4 linked regions of the Homo sapiens genome follow. The protein of the gene in region 1 purifies or fractionates together with the protein of each later gene. This does not show direct contact. Each region holds a gene or a part of one and is shown in the gene's direction. Other genes may lie near its edges.

Evidence for each region.
Region 2: the proteins of CACNG1 (region 1) and LMBR1 purify together in Homo sapiens (affinity purification with mass spectrometry; one large-scale study listed by BioGRID and IntAct). This does not show direct contact.
Region 3: the proteins of CACNG1 (region 1) and ALG5 purify together in Homo sapiens (affinity purification with mass spectrometry; one large-scale study listed by BioGRID and IntAct). This does not show direct contact.
Region 4: the proteins of CACNG1 (region 1) and TMEM222 purify together in Homo sapiens (affinity purification with mass spectrometry; one large-scale study listed by BioGRID and IntAct). This does not show direct contact.

What each region holds. Positions count from the first base shown.
Region 1 is NC_000017.11:67,054,554-67,057,297, forward strand, and holds the end of CACNG1 (voltage-dependent calcium channel gamma-1 subunit), read left to right. Parts: intron 1-549; coding exon 550-687; intron 688-1,491; coding exon 1,492-1,718; 3' UTR 1,719-2,244; downstream 2,245-2,744. UniProt on the Homo sapiens protein: Regulatory subunit of the voltage-gated calcium channel that gives rise to L-type calcium currents in skeletal muscle. Regulates channel inactivation kinetics.
Region 2 is NC_000007.14:156,757,184-156,760,683, reverse strand, and holds part of LMBR1 (limb region 1 protein homolog), read left to right. Parts: intron 1-3,500. UniProt on the Homo sapiens protein: Putative membrane receptor.
Region 3 is NC_000013.11:36,982,341-36,985,840, reverse strand, and holds part of ALG5 (dolichyl-phosphate beta-glucosyltransferase), read left to right. Parts: intron 1-100; coding exon 101-214; intron 215-3,500. UniProt on the Homo sapiens protein: Dolichyl-phosphate beta-glucosyltransferase that operates in the biosynthetic pathway of dolichol-linked oligosaccharides, the glycan precursors employed in protein asparagine (N)-glycosylation.
Region 4 is NC_000001.11:27,334,532-27,336,900, forward strand, and holds the end of TMEM222 (transmembrane protein 222), read left to right. Parts: intron 1-135; exon of another isoform or gene 136-223; intron 224-847; coding exon 848-935; 3' UTR 936-1,869; downstream 1,870-2,369.

The sequences.
Region 1 (2,744 bases):
GTGCCTGCCTGCGCCCAGACAGCTGCACACAGGGTGAGTGGGCAGACACACAGACACACACTGACACACACAGACACACACAACACAGATACACACACACGACACACACAAGACACAGACGCACAGAGACACTGACACACACGCATGATGACACACAAAATGACACACAGTGACACAGACACACACTGATACACATGCATGATGACACACAAAATGACACACAGTGACACACACAGACACACACTGACACACACGTACAATGACACAGACACAGAGACACACACTGACACACACGTACAATGACAGACACAGAGACACACACTGACACATATGCATGACACACAATGACACACACAGACACTGACACACACACAGATACACACATACAATGACACACACAAGACAGACACAGAGACACACACTTGACACACACACAATGACACACACAGACACTGACACACACACTGTGGTGCATGGTGTGGTCCCTAACGAGCCATGACAAGAGCTCCCATGCTGAGGCCGCATGCTGGGTGTCCCTTGTGTTTGCAGAGTACAGCATCTCGGCAGCCGCCATCGCCATCTTCAGCCTTGGCTTCATCATCCTGGGCAGCCTCTGTGTCCTCCTGTCCCTCGGGAAGAAGAGGGACTATCTGCTGCGACCCGCGTCCATGTTCTATGCCTTTGCAGGTAGACTGGGGGATCTGCCTGAGCGCCGGGGCCGGGGGACCATGTCGCGGGGGATTCTCCGCTCCACCCTCATGCCCACCGCGAGATTTGGGTGAGGGGCATTTCCCAGGCTCCATCCCCATCCAGGGGCAAACCTGGCCAGGCCATCAGCGACTCCAGGTGGGTTGGAGGGAGACAGAGCTTGGCGGTTTGTCCATTCCTCTCCACGACTCAACCCTCAAGGCCCCAAAGAAACTGCCCAGAGAATGATTAACAAAAGAAGGAAAGAAACGTGGTCACCTTTCTTTCTTTTTCTTGGGGGATGAGGAAGAGGGTCTCGCTCTGTCATCCAGGCTGGAGTGCAGTGGCACAATCACAGCTCACTGCAGCCTCGAACTCCTGGGTTCAAGGGTTCCTCCCGCCCCAGCCTCCTAGTAGCTGGGACTACAGACGTGCACCACCACACCTGGCTAATTTTTCATTGTATTTTAATTTTTTGTAGAGACGGAGGGCTCATCACTATGTTGCCAGGCTGGTCTCAAACTCCTGGCCTCAAGCGATCCTCCTGCCTCAGCCTCCCAAAGTGCTGGGATTACAGGTGTGAGCCACCACACCTGGCCACATGGTTGCCCTTCTGAGGGATGCAGGAATAGGGTGGTGGGTGGACAAATGGATCCTTCTGCAGGTTCCCATCTAGAACCTGCCTTGAGGCAGCTTTTCCCCCAAGGCAAGGTCACCGCCTCCTCCATGCACACAGGCTGGGATGGGGCTGGTGGCTACGGCAGACGCCCCTCGGTCCCTGAGCATGCCTGGCTCTGCCCCCAGGTCTCTGCATCCTCGTCTCGGTGGAGGTCATGCGGCAGTCGGTGAAGCGCATGATTGACAGTGAGGACACCGTCTGGATCGAGTACTATTACTCCTGGTCCTTTGCCTGCGCCTGTGCCGCCTTCATCCTCCTCTTTCTCGGCGGTCTCGCCCTCCTGCTGTTCTCCCTGCCTCGAATGCCCCGGAACCCATGGGAGTCCTGCATGGATGCTGAGCCCGAGCACTAACCCTCCTGCGGCCCTAGCGACCCTCAGGCTTCTTCCCCAGGAAGCGGGGTCTTGGCCTGGAACCTTCCAGAGAGGAGGCGGGAGCAATTTTAGCCCCACCCTGCTCCCATCTGCCCCCCTGCAACAGTCGCAGGCTGCTTCCTCTCTCTGAGTTCCTCTGGGCTGCCGCAGGCTCCCCTGGGAATAGAGCAAGACGTGAGTCCTAACCTGGCCACAGTTGGGGGAGGCAGAGCCAGCAGGTGGACAGGTGTTTGCAGGGGCCCAACTTCCCCTGGAGCTCAGAGGTGTCCCCACTGTACCAGCCTCTGATAAGCTGCCTCCAGTTGTCCTTTATGAACATTGCAGGGACAACCTGTGTTTGCCAGCTGGGTGTTCCGTGTAAATAGCCAGCCTGTCTCTTTCTCGGTGATAAAACACACCCTCTCTGGTGAGCCCAGCGTCCCCTCCTTGGCTTCCAGGAGCCCTGGGAAGCATTTTTAACTGGGTAGAATCTGACTGTGGCTTGAAATAAAAAGCTCTCAGAAAACTCATGCTTTCCTGGAGCCTTGCATAGAAATCGCTCGGATTCCCAGTCACATCAGGGGCTCCCCTGACGCCGAATGAGAAGGAAAGGCCGGTCACCCGGGTATGTTGAGGTCTTTTGTGGGGACAAGAGGGCAACGCACGTGGCTTAGAGGCTCTGAATTCCAACTCGTATCTCTAGGCCCTGAGATTGTTTTCGGGAGAAACTAGAAACCCTCTGATGAAGCAAGGGTGTTAAAAATAGGAGGGGTTATTTCTAGAGCCTGGCATGCAACGCACCTGGTGCCAACACAGCGCTAAAGCAGCCAGCCAGTGTCTGATTTCTGATGTTGGATTTTTCTTGTGAAGAACATCAGGAAGCAGGGCTTAGCAGTTAGACACTTAGGGCCACATGGAGAGCCATGATTTGCACTCTTCTGCCTTCCAAAACCCCGCAGTACTTGCCCAGGCTTCCAAAGTGGAGTTCAGACATGATCGGCAGATGGGATCCTTGCCTTGCACCCC
Region 2 (3,500 bases), on another chromosome or scaffold:
TATACACACTTGTGTACCACACACATGCTGCCAAGTCTTGAAATTCCTTTCCCTTGTAAAGAGGTTTTGGGACATTGAATTCATTTAGTTTCTTCCTACATTTGTTGTTGTTTGTTTGTTTGTTTGGTCTTCTTTCTCCTTTTCTGCTTCCTGACCCCTAACTATAGGCAAATGTTTAAAGTTCCATCATTGGTCTAAATTTCTATTAATGCTCTGCTCCTAAACCATCTCTGCCATTTCCACATCACTTTTAAATGCCTAATTCTAATGAGGAAAAGACAATGGAAACAAATTCCAGTACATTTTAAGTGCTATAATTGAATACCCCATGGAGCTGAAAACTCAACGTATATAAAACGAAACTACTTACTTAGCTCCCTTCCCCAAGCTAATTTTTCTCCTTAACTTGTCTCTTATTAATGTTAAATATAGTGAACCCCAAGTTTTTCCTCAAAGAATCAGTATGTCAGTGTGTTCAGCTCTCTTCTTCTTCGATTCTCCATTTTAAAGTTTAACTTCCTGGTTCTCTTCTCCCCCTTGCCTCTGGTTTCAGTAAACAACTTTCCCACCAGTCCTAATCAGTATTTCACATCTGTTCGCTGGTCACCTGCTCCATCCTGACTCACCCCTGGTCACCTTCTTTGACCTGAGTCACCCCTGGTCACCTGCTTTGACCTAAGTCATCTTTAGTTACCTGTTCCTAACTGTCCTTCCTGCTAGACTAGTCACCCTGCCACTCTGGCTCATATGCCTGCTCCCTTTAAAATAGCCAGTCGGAATTAGCTTAGACTGTGTGGTCCAACCATTGTCAATAGGGGAACGACACACTAGTAGGGCCCTGTGTCAGAAATAAGAACTCCTTCCCCTCCCCTGTGCAGGTGTGCTCTCTCCATTACTCCATTTGCCAGTCGCACCCTTCTATAGAAGTAAAAATTGCCTTGCTGAGAAAATTAAATTTATGTTCGAGTGCTATTTCTTTGCAGCACCAGGGAACGAGCATTTTGCATTTCTAACATTAACAGTATCCTCAAAGTCTTGTCTTTGTTTCTTTTCTTGTTGGTAACATTCAGTAATAAAGATTATTTATTGAGTAATTGAGTGTATTATATATGCTAGCAATAAACACTATATTTTACACACATAATTTCATTTTATCCTGATGACAAACCTATAAGTTAGATAGTAGTATTCTTATTTTATGGCTAAACTAATGTCATTTCAGGAAGATTAAGTAGCTTGTACAAGATCAGAGATCTATGAGGGGGCAGAGTGTGAACCCAAGAGGCTGGTTTCATACCAGAAGCTGGTCTGCCATTCTATTTTGCTGTAAGCTCCAGAGCTGTAAAACCGATTTGTTTGCTGAGTGGACTTTACCCCTCCACTTCTGTGTTCTGCTTACAGTTTCCTCTAATTGAAATGCCTTTCTTTTGGTAATTTAAGCTGTCAGATAAGATGCTACTATGCTACTACCATCAAAAACACTGGTCGAAACTTTTGTCTCCCCATCTGGGAATAATTTTTCTTCCTTTGAACTTTTGTAATGTTTTATTTAAGCCACGGTTATGACTTTAACAAATCTTCTAATTATTTTTTAAATTCATCTGCTCTCTTCTGCTACACTAGAATATCAGCTGTTTGAGGTCAAGGACTATGTCTTACCCATATTTAAGCCCCCATTAGCCCATAGTAGTTGAGTATAGGGTTTGAAGGCACGTAACATTTCTTTGGTAACCCTGCTTCTTGGAATATAAAATGGAGATGAGAACAGTCTGTTTTTCGTAGGATTGTTGTAGAAATCAAGGAGGATGGTGCTCATAAGAACTTAACACAAATATATGTGTGTTATTTACATTGTCACTGCATTAGTCTATTATGCATTGGTATAAACCTGAGGCTGAGTAATTTATAAAGAAGAGAGGTTTATTTGGCTTATGGTTCTGCAGGCTGTACAAGAAGCATGGCACTGGGACCTGCCTCTGGCTAGTGCTTCAGGAAGTTTCCAGTCATGGCGAGAGGCAAACGAGGAGCATTTGTGTCACAGGGCAAGAGAGGGAGCAGGCGAGAGAGAGGTCCATACTCTTTTAAACAACCTGCTGTCATGTGAACAAATAGAGCAAGAACTCAGTTATTACTGTGTGGACAGCACCAAATCGGTTATTCATGAGAGATCCACCCCCATGACCCAAATACTTCCTACAGGGTCCCACCTCCAATACTGGGGATCAGATTTCAACATGAGGTTCTGAAGGGACAAATATCCAAACTACATCAGTCACTCATTCACACTAAGACATACCCGTGGTGATAAGTAATTCTTGGACAATTTGCATAAGAAAGATAAAAATCCTTTTGTATGCCTTAGACCTTATGTAAAAACTGTCAATTCTGATCCAGATAGTAGAAAGTGAAAAGAAGTGTTGATGGGAAAGGAACTTTGGATCAAGGCCCCCAAGGACCTGGTCCCAGACATGTGGGTTTTCTCTGGGATTCCTCTCCCCTAACCCACTGCATCCAGGAGATCCTCTCCGTGTACCACTCTTTCTCCTCGGGAGTAGCTCACATTCCAGCACTTGCCACTCATTTCAGCCTAAATGTTCCCTCTTTGGAGAGGGCTTGCTGGCTGGCCATTTAGGTATCTCTTCCCCTTTTCTTCCTATTCCTTTCTTCCTCATAGGATGGTCATTCTTTGTCATTATTTGTTTGTATATTTATTTGTTTATTACTGTTGATTATTATTTTAGTATTTGTTTTTTCTCACCTTCCAAGTCAGGCTTCTCAAGGATCGAGTTGGTATGTGTGCCAGTGATGAGTTCAGTGCTAGGTCATAGGGGACCGTAAAGATTTGTTGAAAGGCTGGGAATTATTGGATTGCTTCAAATAAATTTCACATCAGCTGTATAAATTGGACATCTGACAGGGATTGCATGATTTGAAAATCTGTTTTCTGAAAATACTTTAAAGTCTGAAAGGAGATGTATATATGGTTTCTGTCTTTTTGTCCATTAGCTCCTCACAATTTATTTTTTTTGCTGAGTGTGAGTAGTTTGGATGTGAGGATATGGAACACTGATATCAGCTCTAGACTTCTTTGAGATTTGCCCTACAGCTACGAAGATAATAAGGATCCTCTCAGAAGGATAGCTATGTTAACAAAACTAGAATTAAATCAATTTTAGGATTTTTAACAGTGCAGACAATATCCCATACAATTGGTAAATTATTAGTATGGTTTTTTCTTTTGAACTACTGTTGTTTGACTTGGTTTGTATGTAAACATACCACTTCTCTAGATTTTGGTCTATTGGATGATTTTGATAATACCAATCTTTAATATTCATGGAGTGTTTTTAGTACATAAAGATGATATAAATGGAAAGTGTTGCATGTTACTGATGTAGTTTATGGATTTCTTGTTTTAGACATTATGTAGGTAAATGTAAATGAGAAAACAAATGTTGGACTGGGTGTCTGTTCCTTCTATCTCTAAAATATTGGCTTGG
Region 3 (3,500 bases), on another chromosome or scaffold:
TCTTTCACTCTTAGGTATTTTAAGTAGAACAGACTGAAGTGTCATTGAATTTAACCTGAGTTTTAACCAATTTTCTTTGACTTGAAATTTTAAAATACAGGGTATATTCAGTTCTCGAGGAGAAAAGATCCTTATGGCAGATGCTGATGGAGCCACAAAGTTTCCAGATGTTGAGAAATTAGAAAAGGGGCTAAATGATCTACAGCCTTGGCCTGTGAGTATAAGAATGTAGTTTAAATAACATTCAGTCAAGAATGCAGGAGAGCTAAAGTAAAGTTAAAGGAGAGTTTACCTATCAGTTTAAAAACTGAGTGTTTTTGGTATGAAATCCTTATACAAATGGTACAGCCCCATAGAGGAACTGATCATTTTGTTACAAATATTGTCTGATTTTATGAGATTCACTTGACAATTACTTATTTAATATTGTGACCATTTCTCTCTCTTGGTTTCTGATTGCTTCTACCCAAGTTTTAATATTTATTGTGCATATTCAATTAAGACTTTTATTTAAAAGTATAGCCTGAATTCCAGGTAAAGATGTGAAATGAAGCTGGATCACAGAATCCAGTTTTTGATGAAACAAACAAAATCACAAGCAGCAATCACTCAAAAAGGATTATTTGAAACTTCACACCATAACTTCAAAAAGTGGAGGTTGAGGAAAGAAATAAAATCCTAGTACCATTCCTACCTTTTAAAAGCCATTTAGAGAAATAAGATGAATTTGGCAAACGCTCAGGATCCTGAGCGTTTGCCAAATACTTCCCAATCTGGAAAAAATGAATAAGAGAATGAAAAAGCACCCTTGGACAACATCAAACAATATACCTACCATCACACAATATGTCAAACAATATACCTACCACCACACAATACGTCAGAATTTCAGCAGAAGCAAGAAAACTTGCTGAGGTCTGCCATTTTTCAGGACTGTAAGCTGAATTGGGGACACAGATCCATGTGACTAGATCCTTTCCTGGATGGAGTGTACCTTGTTCAAGACACTCGACAAAATCTCACAAGACCAGGGAACCCAAGTAACCAACAAAGCCACGTAGAGCTCCAGGGGAGGGTCCCTCCTCCCTGCCTTCCCACCGTCTACCCTCAAGTCCAGATATAATACTCAGGCCTTGAAATTCTAGTTTAGAGGGGGAAGAGATACAGGTACATCAAGGAGAATGTTCATTTACTGTAGGAGAGCTGCCCATGTTAATCATGACAAAATAAAAGAAAGAAATGGCAATCACACCAACATATAATTACACAAAAAAGAATTAAAGTTGCATACAAAAGATTTAAGACAGTGTAATCCAAGGAAAAGGACAAAATTACATGCAAGTATTCTGGCTAAAGAAATAAAACAATGAAAATAAGAATTTAGCAACACAGGTCTTCAAAGGTAAGATGACAAAACAACAAAATGGTATTAAAAGAAAAATTACAGGCCAGGTTTACATGCCTGTAATTCCAGCACTGTGGGAGGCCAGGGCAGGAAGATCACTTGAGGCCAGGAGTTTGAGCCCAGCCTGGGCAACATAACAAGACCCCATCTCTGTAAAAATAAGAGAAAAATTAACAGGGTGTGGTGGTGTATGCGTCTAGTCCCAGCTACTTAGGAGGCTGAGGCAGGAGGATCATTTGAGCCCAGCAGTTTGAGGTTATAGTGAGCTGTGATTGCCCCACCGCACTCCAGCCTCAGTGACAAAGCAAGAGCCTGTCTCAAAAAAAAAAAAAAAATTACAGAACTAAGGAAACAAATTGAGACCAAAATAAGATGAATATGTAAAACTATCTATGAATGAAATAGACCTAGTTTAGAACTGAATATTATTACATATTTATTAAGATCCTGTTATAGCAAAAACCAAACCAAACAACACAAAAAGGTAAACATATAAGGCCCCCCCAAATTTAATAATAATTACAGAAAAACTCACTGCATATCCTTCTAGAAATAAATATTTATTTAATTCCACACTTTGTGAAGTATATTTCTCCCCCACCATCATCCATCCCCATCCCTTGTATTTCTAGCTGTTTTTTTTGTTTTTTTCTAGGTGTTTTTTGTTTTTTTAAGATTCTAAGTGAATCAACTAATATAATTCTTAAGAGAATTAGCTGTAAAGATATTCATACCATTGCTCTTCAGACAAGTAGCACTAGCTGCATGTGTCTATTTAAATTTAAATAAAATGAAAATTTAGTTCCTCAGTTTCATTGGCCACATTTAAATTACTTGTTGCTAAAAGCTACCTTTTTTTTTTTTAAAGGAGATAAGGTCTTACTGTGTTGCCCAGGCTGGACTCAAACTCCATCCTCCTGCCTCAGCTTCCTGAATAGCTGGGACTACAGAAGTGAGCCACCATGCCCCGCTTGTTGTATAGCATTTCCATCATCACAAAAAGTTCTCTGGCTTATAACATGATATGAATTTATTGTTGGATATGTTGTAGTTCACTCTTACTAAAAAAGTATTTCATGTCCAACATCTTAGTAAATCATGATAGGCTAAAAGGAAAATCTCATTCATAAAGTTACTTGGTGTGATTTCCTGATTTTCTCCAGAGGACCCCAAGAGAAACTTGATAAATATTTCCCTTGCATTATCTTTCTAGAGGGAGTCACTCAGTGGGAGGGAGGGCATAAGGCATCAGATTTTTAGCAGCTGATTTTGTCATTCAGCAGTAGGGCAAAGATAATTTAAATGATTTTGCTGATGTTAGGGAGTGAACCAAACAATAAAACAAAAATCTGAACTTTATTCTTATAAATCTAGTTCCTTTATACTACTCTGTAAAGAAAAGGAGTTCTGATGCCATATTTTTTCCTTATCATAATCCCATTTACTACACTGTTACTAGAAATGTTAAGTTTTAAAGAATTAAAGCATGTGATTATCATTAAGCTATTAATTCGTAGCCTTGGTTTTACAGCACCTTAAAGTATCCCTAATTATTTAAGTGTCCCAGCTCAATTGAATTAATTTGAATTAAATTTAGTAAGTTTTATTAATATGCATCATGTAATACTCTTTGCAGGAGGTGGAAAGGAGGCAAATAAATGATAGGTGGTTAAAGTTACAAAATTCATAGTTTTTGGATCCACCCAGTGAAAAATATGGTTCTGACAAAGCTTATAAACAGCCAGTCATTGCTCTCAGAAAACTTACATTCTGAAGTTGACATGCATAGAGAAATTAGAAGAAATCTTCTTACTTATGTAATTCAGGTGTTAGAGAACTTTTTCTGTAAAGGACCATATAGTAAATATTTCAGCTTTAAAGCCAGTCAGCCTCTGTGGCAGCTGCTCAACGCTCTATTGTAGCATGAAAGTAGACATAGATAAAATACATCCTTTATTTACACAAATAAGCAGCAGATCAGATTTGGGCTACAGGCTATAGTTTGCTGACTCTTAAATCTAATTTAATCATTTATCCAATATTGGAAAGTTTTTACAACTACCTAGTGATCTTTCAGCCTCTACTGCATAGCTCT
Region 4 (2,369 bases), on another chromosome or scaffold:
GCCTTGGTCTCTCTTAGCCACAGCTGTCTCTGGTGAAATGCAGGCAATGATTCCGGCTCCTCAGGGAGGCTTCTACGGATCCCTGTGCTCCGGTAAAGTGAGCAGATAGATCCTCTCATAATGACTGCCCCACAGGTCCCTTCCTAGGCAGAGAGATTGAGTGAGTCGCCCATGGTCGCCACAGCATGGACACAGCAGAGCCCAGACTCGTGAGCCAGCATAGGTTAGTGCTGATCTGGCCGCCTCTCCAAGCTTTCCTCTTAGCCACGTTCATCATTAAGAGGTTCTGAAAAGAAGACTTTTAGGGATATTTTTAAGTACTGCATGGCTTTTAGAAGTCCCCTGAGAATAACTGGTCACACAGAGGTTGAACCCAGACCCCTGGCTCCCAGCTGCTTGGCTCCAGCCACAACACTGCTGACCCTTGCCAGCCCCAGAGCTCCCAGTAGTCCCCATTATGAAGTCCATAGGCAGAGGGCACACGTGGCTTCCATACCCAAACTGCAATTCCTGGTCCTCTTGCTGGAGACCCTAGAGGTAGGTGGCTATAGATGGAGCCAGTGAGGCCTAGAAATGGGGAGCATGTTTCCTGTTCCCAACCAGCGAGGTGTCAGTAAATCACCAGGAGCGCGGAGCAGCCCCTGCCCGGGACCATAGCTGGTGATCCCCCATAGTGGGCAACCATGCCCAGCCTGCTTCCTTGATTGGCCAAGTTTGGGGTGAGGGGGTGGTTGGGTTTTCCTTAGGGATGGCAGCCCTATTGGGGTCTGTGGGTGCTCAGGGCTGCGGGCCGCATGCCTGCTCACCAGGCCCTGCCCACCTATGCTCGCTCCTTTCTCTCTGTCAGCGTTGGGGCCTTCGTGAAGACCTGGCTGCCCTTCATCCTTCTCCTGGGCATCATCCTCACCGTCAGCCTGGTCTTTAACCTCCGGTGATGGCTGCTCGGTGGCCCCACACCCACCAGGGTCCCGAGGAAACAGCCGCCATCCCTTTTGGTTCCAGATTTTTTTCTCCTCACCCCAAAAGGCAGGGTTGGGCCTGCTGTTGTGGACCGGGGGTCGGGGCTGGCAGGATGGAAGGACTGAGGACCAGCATGAAGTGGGGGTTTGTTGTCTCCCTGCCTCTCAGAAGCACCCTGTCCCCTCCTCCCCAGGCCTGTGACTCCGGCCCTGGAAGCCCCTTTGTTCTTCTGTTGAAAGGCTTTGGCTTCCCGCTGTAGAGCTGCTCCCGCCACCACCTGCTGGGGTCCTGCCTCAGCCCAGTGCCCAGTATGGGGAGAGGAGGACATTTGGGCTCACCTGTCAAGGTGGCCCTGGGACCAGAGCTGGTCCCAGCATGGGGTGCACCGGGTACACTTAACGTGTCTCTATAAGCCAAGTTGCTTCAGGACCTTCACCACTGGCCTCTAGAATGGTCCAGAGGGGCTGGCTGGGTCCCTTTGTCAGACTCCTGCCGGCAGCTGCCCTGGGGGACATGTGTGCCCATCTGGCATCCTCCAGCCCGTGCAGTCCGCTCTTCACTGTTCCACGGCCTCCCAGTGCCTCCCAGCATTGGACCCATCTCCCCCTGCAGTTTGAGGCCAGAGAGGTGAGTGGACCTGACAAGTGCCAGAGTAACCGTGTAGACAGAGCAGTGTAGACAGCACTCAGCCCCAGCCCCAGGTGTGGACCTCATGCTGGTGATGGCTCCCCTGGGTGGCCTGCCAGCACAGCCAGTGCCATCAGGGAGCTGAAGGGGCTGTCCCCCACCTAACTCCAGCTCCCCCTTCACGTTGTCACCAAGGCCCTGTGCCGCCCGCCTCGCCCCCCTGCTCTGTGGATTCCTTTGGGAAGGGCTCCCTGGGCAGGACAATAAAGAGTTTTGACTCCAGTTGGTGCCCTGTCATTGTTTTCTCCCTCTCTGGGGCCCCCTTGCCCCTTAGCTCATAGCGTCTTGGTATTCTTGGGACCCTATTACCCTTGACAAGGGTCTAGTTGCCAGCACCATGGTTGAGTCTGCGTCCAGTGCCTGGGGCCATCAGCATCCCTCAGGTATATCCCGCCCCTGAAGTCTGGGGATTCCCTGCCATTCTCCATTCCCCATTCCAAAGCTTTCCTCTTGAGGCAGGTGGGCATTGAAACCCCTTCCATCGTCCCTGTTGGGAAGGACTTGTAGGCTTGGGGTTAGGGCTGAGTAGAGCCTCCACTGCTGTCCCCACCACCCGCCGGGGTACAGAGTTGGGGATGAGCCAAGAGCACTGCCAGCCTCTGGTCACTGTATCCATCCAGCCTTCGCTTGCCTCCGATCCTTTGCTCTCCACCATCCCTCTCATGGCGGCCCTGCCTAACCAAGGCCCAGCTTAAAAGCCGCTTCCTCCCTGAAGCCTTTCC